2 separate regions of the Homo sapiens genome follow, and region 2 is linked to region 1. Evidence: fine-mapped expression QTL. A gene starts in region 1. The other region holds a variant in brackets. All regions are shown on one strand. Distances are from middle to middle.

Region 1 (5,346 bases):
TCATAATTTTTCCTCTCCTATTACAAGCTTTCCACATACTCTTAGATGAGAAAAGTGAGTGGCCTCTGTTAGAGAGTTCTTATGTGCATTTGGACTTTCTTTACTGGAGCTGTCTCATTTTCTAAACTCTCATTCAGTAGCTAGAACTTTTTTTTTTCTCAGACACGTTTCCAGTTTCCTTTTCTCAGATATATATTGTCAAATCATCTAGCTCACTAGTGTTAATCACTCTGTTCCTAATATATAGCAATAAAATTTCAGAAGAGAATCTTAGTAAGATTACTTGCAGGAGTTCAAGAATGTGGCGTGTTCTTAAAACTAGGGGACAAGGTTGATTTCAACCATTGTTAGCATTATGTTTCTGTAATCTTAGCCCTGAATAAATTACTCAAGCATCACAAAGATCATTAGACAAACAACAAAACAACAACAAAATCCCACCCAGCAGCACCATTTGTATGTCTATGCCAGTGTCTACTTCTGTCATACAGTTTGTAAGTATTAGAGGTCGGAGGTGAAAAGGAAAGGTTAATTAGCCCAGCCTTTTATGCAAAACAGGTTGCATAGCATTTTCTCCATAGTAATTTTGAGAGAGAGAGAAAGGATAGACTTTACAACACATAGCTGTGGGGAAGGAGGTTTATTATTAAACAGAGATAATAAATAAGTGTTGGAAACCACACACAGCAACTGGAGCTTAGCTTTTATGTGTCTTGGTTGCCAGCAGCTTTTACTACTTCAACAGATCCTGACAACAATAATTAGAATTCAAGGGAAGCAGGAGGAAGGTGATTAATCTTGCAAACCCATTTCTGGTAGCACATCAGCACTGGTCTGGGGAACGGGGACACCTGGTTCTTCCTCTCTCCTGCCCCATGTTCTCCACACTGGCTGCAGCACACATCTGTCTAGTGACAGATTTTAGAATAGCAAACCCTGGGCTGTATCAAGCGCCAAACAAAGGCCAAATGACACAATAAAAGCATCATTTATCTTTCAAAAACTTCTCCGCTACTGCCAAGAGGGAGGACCCACACCTGGGAAAAGATTGTCTCTCTTATATGGAAGAAACCTGAATTGTTTCCACGTTGCTTTTTCCTTGACACCCAGGCCACTTTCCATCGGGTTGTCAGGATACTCCTAAGAAGGGGAGTCGGAAATGCCAGATGTTCTGTATCACCTTTAGTTAAAAACCAAGCCTCCTGTTACTAGAGACCATTCAATGTCCACTATTCCCTTTGGTGAGTTACTTAAGGAACTGTGCGTCTCCACCTGCAACCCCATGCCTCCTCTCCTGTTGAATTCCCAACAGCAGTTATTGCCCCTGTCCCCAATCCCCACACTAATGGGGGCCCTACAATTTAGGGCAGAGGCCATTTATTACAAAACGCTCTTGAAACCTGATCCCTCCACTCCTCCCCTAATTTTGGATGCACAGTTTAAGTAAGGAATCTCTTAGCACTTAGCGAAGGCTTCTTCGCTGTGGCAGATATCACAATTGTAACTGGGCCCTCATCAGACTGGGAGCTTCCTGTGGGTGGAAGCTGCATCCACAGAGCTTAGCAATGCTTTGTGTACTCGGTAGGTGCTCAGTAAGCCTTTGCCTGGGCTCTGGGAATATAACTCCTTTGAAGTACAACATACAAGCAGTAAAGTGCAGACACCTGCAGTGAATGTACAGATCAATGGATTCCACGTGTGTATACACAGAGGTTTACAATGGCCACCCAGAGGAGCGTTACAGAACATTCCCCTAGAGACTCCCTTGACGCAGGGAATTTAATTGCCCTCCCTTCCATCCTGTGCAGGCAGGCTGGTTGCCAGTAAAGGGATATGAGATGCCCTGATGCATCCGCAGACAGAACCCTTAGTATGGGGGGGAAGGACCTGTCATTCTAGAGTAAAAGTAAGACCAGGAAGATTAAAGAAGACAAAAATTTAAAAATGCAAATGGTGAAAAGCATAAACAACTATTTTCCTCTCTCCCCACACTCACCCAGAAGCACCGGGGCCAAAGAGAGGGCATGGGAGGTCTCAGGATCCCCTGCCGCCCCACCACTGCCCTGATGCCCGCTTGTGACGCAGAGACCGGAGTGGCTCTGAAATTACTGTCTTCAAAGCAGGCCAAACCTTGCTTGACACGTGCAAAGTTCCAATCTCTTGCTTCTCAGCTCCCCGCACGCGCGGGCCAACGTGCACTTCTGAGCCAGATCACCTAGCCACAAGGAGGGGGAGAGAGGGGGAGATAGGAGGAGAGAGGGGAAGATAGGGGGAGAGACGGGGGAGAGAGAGGGAGAGGCAGAGAGAGAGAGAGAGACAGAGAAGAGAAAGGAAGCACCTGAGACAGAGAGAAAGAAGAGAGAGAAAGGAAGCAGCTTCCCCCAACGCTGCGGCCTTGTGTTTCCTCCCGTGTCAAACGAGAGGGCCCCAAATTGACCCCAAATGTTTTTTCTTCCTTTCTCAATCCAACATTTATACCAGCACGTTATTTCCAGGATGCCCAGGACCTCTGCTATGGTTGTGCTGCTGTCCCTGCAAAGGCGCTGGGGATGGCCGAGGTGGGGGATGTCTCTGGGGGCTGAAATACGCTGCCAGGGGAAGGGGCGCCCCGATACCACCCTCAGTGGCTGCTGGTTGGGCGACCGGTGGCCCTGGCTTGAGAAAGTGAAAATGTCCAATCTATTTTGCCTGGAGCCTTGGGTCTCTTTTGGATACGGAACCGAGCAGCAGTCCTCCACTTCGCCCTCTCCCGCCGCTGCAAGGGAAAAGGTCGTTTTCCTCGAGTCCCGGAGAGGCCCTCCAGGAACCCAGAGCCCCCCGGGGACACCGCCCAGCTCCCGGCGCCCGGCCCCGCCCCTGCGCGAACTCGGCCGCACCCACTTTCCCGGGCGGCTCCCCCTCCGTGGCCTGTGGCGTCACAAGGCCCCCAGCCGCCTGTGCCCCGCGGTGCGCGCCCCGCTCCGGGACCTGCCGCCACCGCCGCCCCGCCCTCGGCGGCACCCACACCCAGGCGCGCCCGCGCGCGCGCCCGGCCCCGTCCCTGTCTGGAAGCACAGCTGAAGATGGCGAGCCCGGCGCCTCCGGAGCACGCCGAGGAGGGATGCCCGGCTCCTGCCGCCGAGGAGCAGGCGCCGCCGTCGCCGCCACCGCCCCAGGCATCCCCCGCAGAGCGGCAGCAGCAGGAGGAGGAAGCGCAGGAAGCTGGGGCGGCGGAGGGCGCGGGGTTGCAGGTGGAGGAGGCCGCGGGCCGGGCGGCGGCCGCGGTAACCTGGCTGCTCGGGGAGCCGGTGCTGTGGCTGGGCTGCCGCGCCGACGAGCTGCTGAGCTGGAAGAGGCCGCTGCGGAGCCTGCTCGGCTTCGTCGCTGCCAACCTGCTGTTCTGGTGAGAGCTTGGGCAAGGTGGGGGCGCTGAGGAGGGCAGGTGACCTTGGGGCGCCCGGGGCCCCGGGGACCCAGTGCAGGGGGAGCCCGCGGGACACTGCGGAGGAAGAATTGTCAGCCCTGCCCCACTTTCTCGGCCACCTGTCTCGAACAGGTAGACACTCACCGCAACTTTCCTCCGGACGCACGTCCCTGTGAGCAGTTGTCGTTCTCCGTGTGCGGATCCAGCCTCAGATGCGAGGTGGTCGGCCGACCCTCAGGCACCTGCACCTACAGGTGTTCCCATCGTGCTTGAAAACTTCGCCCCTGCTTTCTAAAACTCTGAGGTCTTGACCTGCTCGCCCAAGCTTGCCGGAGCAAACGTGCTTGAACGTGTCTTGGTTCTTGCAGCCCCAGCAGGCATATCTGGACCAGATTAGGTACCCGTTCAAAACGGTGCCGCATTCATCAGTCACCTGAGATGGGCCCTGAATGATTTGTTTTTTCCTTCCCCTGGAGCGTTAGGTTTACTGTGTTTACTCCCTGATGAGAAAACGGGAGGCAAACAAGCAGGTGGAGTATGCCCAGCACCCACCCCCGGGTGTGCACAGTGTGGAAAACAGGCATATTTTTAGGTGAAGTACAGGGAGAACACACGGGAATGCTCAGCCCCTGAGCAACAGGTTTGTCTCTCCAAAAAGCGCTCTTCAGAAAGGCCAGGGAAATGTCTGTCTCCTTCGTTGAAAGTGGTGTCCTGTCATCCGTTACCACGCTATTGAGGGCGGAGAAAAACCTTCTTTGTTTGCTAAGTGTCCTCATAACAAACATGACCTACACAGTGCAGAATAATCAGACTCCGGTAACAGATACCTTGTTACAGGACAGAGATTTCTGAACCTTAAAGTTGAGAAATAAATAAATTGCACAAAATAGACAGCCTGTCATTTTCTAGGTTAACTTGAGCAAGATGAATATTTTCCTCAGATCTCTGCTAGTCCTGGTGTTTTCTCTTAAAACTAGCTGTATCTTGTCGGAGGTCCCTGAAAGTGAATTAACTTTGGATCTCTTAGGTATCTGTGTTTGGAATAGAGTTTATTCCAAATCTATCTTATTATGGAGTGAATGCGAGCACTCAAATAAGAAGGACATATTGTCTTATGCTAGATTGGGCAATAGTCTAATAGTCTTAGGGCTGTGTCTCACTAATGTTTACGATGTTTTTAACATTTTATTTCTTTTTCTTTTCTTTCTTTCTTTCTTTTTTTTTTTTTTTTGAGATGGAGTCTCACTCTGTCGCCCAGGCTGGAGTGCAGTGGCGCGATCTCGGCTCGCTGCAAGCTCTGCCTCCCGGGTTCACGCCATTCTCCTGCCTCAGCCTCCCGAGTAGCTGGGACTACAGGCGCCCGCCACCACGCCTGGCCAGTTTTTTGTATTTTTTTTAGTAGAGACGGGGTTTCACCGTGTTAGCCAGGATGGTCTCGATCTCCTGACCTCGTGATCCGTCCGCCTCGGCCTCCCAAAGTGCTGGGATTACAAGCGTGAGCTACTGCGCCCGGCCTTAACATTTTATTTCTTAATTTTAAATTTTATTTCTTTAAAAAACTAATACAGTCTCACAGTGCAAAAGTTTAAAGGTACAAAAGGGTAAGCATTTTGAAAATCTCTTTCTCATCCCAGTCCCTGGCCGCCCAGTTTCCTCACGGAGGCCAGCAATGTTGCTAGTTTCCTGTGTCTCTTTCCAGATAGTGCACATTTCAGCAAATACACCATATTCTATGCAAATTGTGGAATAACATATGAGCTCTTCCTTTTCCTAGTATTTCTTGGTGATTGCTTCCTTGTTCTTTTTCAGCTGCTTCAGAATTCTATTGTAAGGATGTCTCAAATTACTTAACCTGTCTCCTACTGAGGCAGTAATGTTTCCAAGCTTTTGCTATTTCAGCATTATAGCTAATGACCCTGTACATGCATCATTTTGCATATATG
Region 2 (5,375 bases), 830 kb before region 1:
AAGAGAGTGATTTTGCAATTGCTGGATCACTTGACTGTGACTTGAGAGGAGGTTTCTAGAAGAAATTCAAAGTTTAGATGAATGCCTGAGGGTAGTCTCTTCTTACCTTAATCTACATGTTTCTAACCCATCATTATCTCAAAGTTATCACACACACACACACACACACACACACACACACCACAGTTTCTCGACTTCACTGAAACCCACTGTCCCCTAAGGATACTGCTTCTCCTCTCAAGCAGGGGCTGGGAGATATTTTCCATCAAACTCCAAATATCTCAGTATCAGAACCAAGGCAACGTCCTCCTGACTACCCAATGCCACTTGCAGACGAATGACTGCACTCTCTTTTGTAAGTTGCTCCTTTGAGTAGTTGACAATAAGAGCTTCTTCTCCCTCTAGTCCTCACTTAATCATTTGGTCACTCCTTAAAGAATTTAGCACTCAACTCATAGTCTCCTTTTCACCCAACCCTACCATCATGCTAAGCAGATTTAACATCACTTGGATGCACCATCAACACCTTGCCCAGCAGTTCCTTACCCTGATACCCACTGATAGTTGTCATCATTCACCTCAAGCACCAACTTCCACAGTCACACCATGAATTTGGTTAACATTGGAAACTGCACTTCAGATAATTCTGCAATAATATAAATACCTTCACAAACACCACCACCACCATCTTCAACTTCCCTTTCCAATGGCCTTGTTTTCGTCCCCTCATACAACACTTCTACCTATCAAGAACTGCAATCCAGTGACACTTCAACTTTCTCTACATTCATCAGCCTCCTCAGCTCTCCACATCTCTCCATCAGTACAATGTCACCTCCCTCCCCCGTGTCCACCTCCAACTCCTGGCTTCGTATTTTATCTGGCCTATTCCTATTCATCCTTACTCGTACCGCTTTCTTAGAAAGGGGCTATCCAGACTTCTAAGCTAGATGATGTTCTTCTGTTAAGCCACCTTGTAAGTTCTTTGTGCTTTTCTTAGCTATTATTCAAGCACAACAATGATCATATTGCAATTAATGTCATTGTGGATTTGAACATGGAAGGTCTATTTTATCCTAGATTGTAAATTGGTTAAGAGCAGAGATCATGACTGTTTTACTCTCAATTACATATGTCAACTAACACCATGCCTGGCACATAGAAGGCACTCTAGGAATATATGTGGAGTCACACACACACATACACATACTTATGCATACACACTCATACACTTACCCATGAAGATTTCTTCCAGTAAATGGGTATCTGTATTATGCAAGCAACATGAAATCAGAAAGAACATTTTGGGGTTTTTGCTGCCTAACACCAAAACTAATTGCAGCCACTCTTCAAAAAAATGCAATAACTTTATAAACAGCCACATCCTGATTCTTACGGTTGAAAGCTCTCCATTCTCTGCTGAATATTCATCCGTTGAGAGGGACACTAGCCTAGAAGCTCAGCACTTTCTGAAAAGAGAAGCAGCAGGAATAGAAGATGTGTGGAGAGGAAAGAAAGTCAAAGGCAGGCTCCTGCAATGCAAAGGTGCCAGGAACAACGGTGCAATCCCAGGCTGTGTAACACAGGATGGAGGAGGGAGATCTCACTTTTATTGTAAATAGCAGAATTCTTTAAAGGTAGCTACATTAGCAATCAGATCTCATAGATGCTGGAAACACAAACACCTCCTTTCTCATTAAGGGTAGGGGGATCCAGCATAATTTCTCTGGACCAGGAAGATGGAGGAGTCTTACTTCTCTTGCCTTCCAACTGCATCCCCCACTCAATCCTAGATTGCACAAGGAAGTCAACACTACCTCCCCCAACAAGCTCCAAATCCCTCTCTTCACAGCATTGTCAATTGAATCTCTTCATCCAATCTTGGAAACAGTCTGGAAAAAGAAGCAGAGGAGAGAAGAAAGGGGAAAAGTTCAAAAGTACTTTAAACTCTGCCAAAAAAAATCAATTAGTACCAATATACACAGAGAAATGAATGACAGAAGTCATCGCAGCAAGGTATTTCCTCATGACTCCTTCAACTGGCCAGGGCCAAACCAAGGTGTGCAAATAATCTGAGCAACTGTACACTTTGGCACACCTTTGCTATGTATACATACCTTCAATATGTATTTACAGAAGCTGGAAATTGCACAGGGCAGGACCAGGAAAGAACGGGCAGAAATGTTCAACTGCATGGCCAATGTCCTGAGCTTTAGCCCC[AG/G]AGTTGTGTGTCCTACTCTGAAGCCCTACAAGTCATAGGACCCATTCACCCCAGAGCCAGTGCAGCCTATTTCTTTGAGATCTCAGTCCCATCTCTCTAATGGTATCAAAGAACCCTCCATTTACATTTAGTGCTCTCTTTGAAAGGAGCCATGATAGACTTTAATCCAAATTTACAAAAAGAAAAACTGGATTCCAAAGAACGATATAATTAGCATAAATACTGGGACTACACACTGCCACATAATAAAACAGAAAGCATCAAAATATATAATTGTGTATAGCACCTATACACTAGCATAGGTCAAACAGCTGAATGATTAAAGGAGTTTTGTTTTGTTTTGTTTTAATCAGTCAACTAGGAACTTCTTAATGCAGTCACTTTGGCATGATACAAACAAAATCTTTCAAACTACAACACATCTTAGAAACAGCAAATACTACTGCTGTTCACGTAGCAAGGAAGGTTACAAGTAAATCTCCCAATATCTCAGGTGTAAAGAAGTGTTCTAACAAGGTCCATTTGTATTAAATCAAATCACCAGACTAAGGCATCTATTTTGCACCACTTACTCAGAGCAACAGACAAAAAGACAGGCCTTTGGGTTTATTTATATAAACATTCTTCCACAGGTAGTCACAGAGGAGGAAGGAGTACAATGTAATTTGATGGTGGATGAATTTGCACAAAAAGGAGACTAAAAAAGAAAGATTATTGTGACCCAACACTCACTCTTTACTTTTTAAAGTTGTGGGGAAAAGAAATGGCAAAGCTTTCTATTTCTGTAAGCTTTTGTTGTAAAGAATTGAATAAAAAATAGCAATACCTAATCATCTCTAAATTACTTCAACTAAAAACACCACTAAAGACCTTATAATCTTTTTTTAAAAAATTCATTCTCATAATTTCTTCCTTGGCCCTGAAAACGATGGTTTAAAAATAGCTTGATTTGCATCTTATTCTTTTACTGCCTTTCTACAAATACATTTTGAAATGCTTGCTTACGGAAAAGCTGTTGCCTGCTTAGCTTTCATCATGTATGAGATCACACTATTTCGCTCACCTGGAACTGTCGTGTTCTCTGTTCCCAGCAACGGTCCGATAAGGAGCATCCTTGCTAAATGATATGTTTAAAGTATGTATAGCTACGTGTATTTTCAAATGCATAACCAATTTCTTAAAAGAGATGGTAACTCATGCCAGAAGCAAGGAAAAGATTGAAAGGCAGGCCTGGAAACAGAGCTGGCCCAGTAGCAGCTCCAAATATGTCAAAATGCTAGTGTTATTTAAGACACCGATACAATATCCCTGATGATGAAACAGGAAACGTTCCCTTGCGCCACCCGCAGGGTGTGCAACAGGAGGAGTGGCTCGCTTCTTCCGTGCCCCACTGCTCAAACCTCTAGGGGAGCATGCGGACGGCTGGGTTGTGGGGCTCCAACCCAAGAGCAGTGTCTAGGGGTGAATGTTTACAGCTGAAGCCCCAGTGGGCACACGTGTGTTACAGGGTGCTCTTTTAGTTTTGCCATCTGTAGGCGACTTGTGTTAGTCAGCTCAATTAGACCCCCTGGCTTATCTCAAGGACAGAGGACTTTCTGTATCCCAGGGTCCTTGCCTTGGTGTACCGGAAGAATCAGATCACACGTGGGCTTGGAGAATGAGTTCAAGGTTTTATTGAGAGGAAGTAGCTGTGAGCAGACAGGGGAGACAGAAGGGAGATGGAGTGGGAAGGTGTAGTTTCCTGGAGTCAGGCCACCTAGCGGCCTGGCTCTCCTCCAACCACGCAGCCAAACTCCATGTCCTTCCGCCAGTCGATGGCCTGCCAGGGTCTGCCTGTCGGCGTGCTCTTGTTGACGTCCTCTGGACGTCCAGCCGCTTGTGTGAGTGCCCACTAGTGTTTCGGGGTTTTTATAGGCACAGGATGGGGGCGTGGTGGGCCAGGGTGGTCTTGGGAAATGCAACATTTGGGCGCAAAGGCAGGAGTGCCTGCCCTTACCTAGGTCTGTGGGCACAGGCACCGGGGTGAAGCCCTCGCCAGAGACCTGCTTTCTCCTCCCAGCACTTCCCTGCCCCCCTCCCTTATCAATAACATCTGCATTTGTAGCTGGGTAACCAGGGTATTCTTCATACAGCTGCAAGTATCTGGCTAATATATTGATAGGGTTTGGATCTGTGTCCAGGCCCAAATCTCACGTTGAATTGTAATCCCAGTGTTGGGGGTAGGGCCTGGTGAGAGGTGATTGGATCATGGAGGAGGATTTCTCATGAATGGTTTAGGACCATCCCTTTGGTGCTGACGGCAAGACAGTGAGTGAATTCTCAAGAGAGAGTTCTGGTTGTTTAAGAGTGTGTGGCACCTTGCTCGCTCTCTCTTTCTTGCTCCTGCTTCAGTCACATGAGGTGCCTGCTCTCATTTCACCTTCCACCATGAGTCAAAGTTCCCTGAAGCCTCCACAGAAGTAGACCCAATATGTTTCCTGTACAGCCTGCAGAACCGTGAGCCAATTAAAGCTCCTTTCTTATAAATTACACAGTCTCAGGTATTTCTTTATAGCAATGCCAGAACAGCCTAATACATACATTATGTCTTCAAGTGGGGGTGAAGACATGCTGAACATTTACTTCTTGAAATATCCACTATATGATAGTCAGGGTGTTGTATGTTTAAAGCATGTATGTGTATAGCTTACGTTATTAAAAATTATTGTTTTAGAATAGAAAAAGGAAGAGTGATAAAATATTAGGCTGAACCATATGAAATTGCTGATATTTTATAACTTTTAGTCAACAAAATTCTCAAATGAGAGCTTTGGGTCCAATAAGTTTGCTTTGCCCCAGGCAACTTGCCCCACTAGTGTAATTCGGGGTCAAGCCATGTGCAAGACTATCAGACAGTTTGCACATCCAAGCATGACCACTCCATGCTCTATTATGCTAAGACAGTCTCTGTAACTTTTCTGCTTTGAGTTAAGTTACATAAGTCCTCTTTCTGTTACCCAACATTTGTGGGTGCCAGGTCCCTGAAAGGAAGCTATAGGAGCAGGTAAAAATTCTTTCCATATTTATTTGTGTGGAATTTTTACTTTTTGACTGTATACCAGATGTAAGGAAGTGTTCTTGCTCTAGGGCCATCTGTCATTGCAGAGGTAGGATA

Evidence for each region. PIP is the estimated chance that this variant, and not a neighbour inherited with it, causes the effect. A credible set is the group of variants that fine-mapping cannot tell apart.
Region 2: its variant is the best candidate, but not a certain one, in a credible set for the expression of RETREG1 in neutrophils (Naranbhai 2015, PIP 0.87).

What each region holds. Positions count from the first base shown.
Region 1 is chr5:16,614,688-16,620,033 of GRCh38, reverse strand. RETREG1 (reticulophagy regulator 1) reads left to right here and starts at 3,037. Exons shown (of 9, transcript NM_001034850.3): 1 at 3,037-3,382. The coding sequence starts at 3,063. It overlaps RETREG1-AS1 (RETREG1 antisense RNA 1), which reads right to left and starts at 4,108. Exons shown (of 4, transcript NR_109946.1): 1 at 3,548-4,108. RefSeq lists a silencer at 2,794-3,283.
Region 2 is chr5:17,442,144-17,447,518 of GRCh38, reverse strand. LINC02218 (long intergenic non-protein coding RNA 2218) reads right to left here and starts at 3,509. Exons shown (of 3, transcript NR_134270.1): 1 at 3,285-3,509. The variant AG/G (reference allele first, on the strand shown) is at 2,221.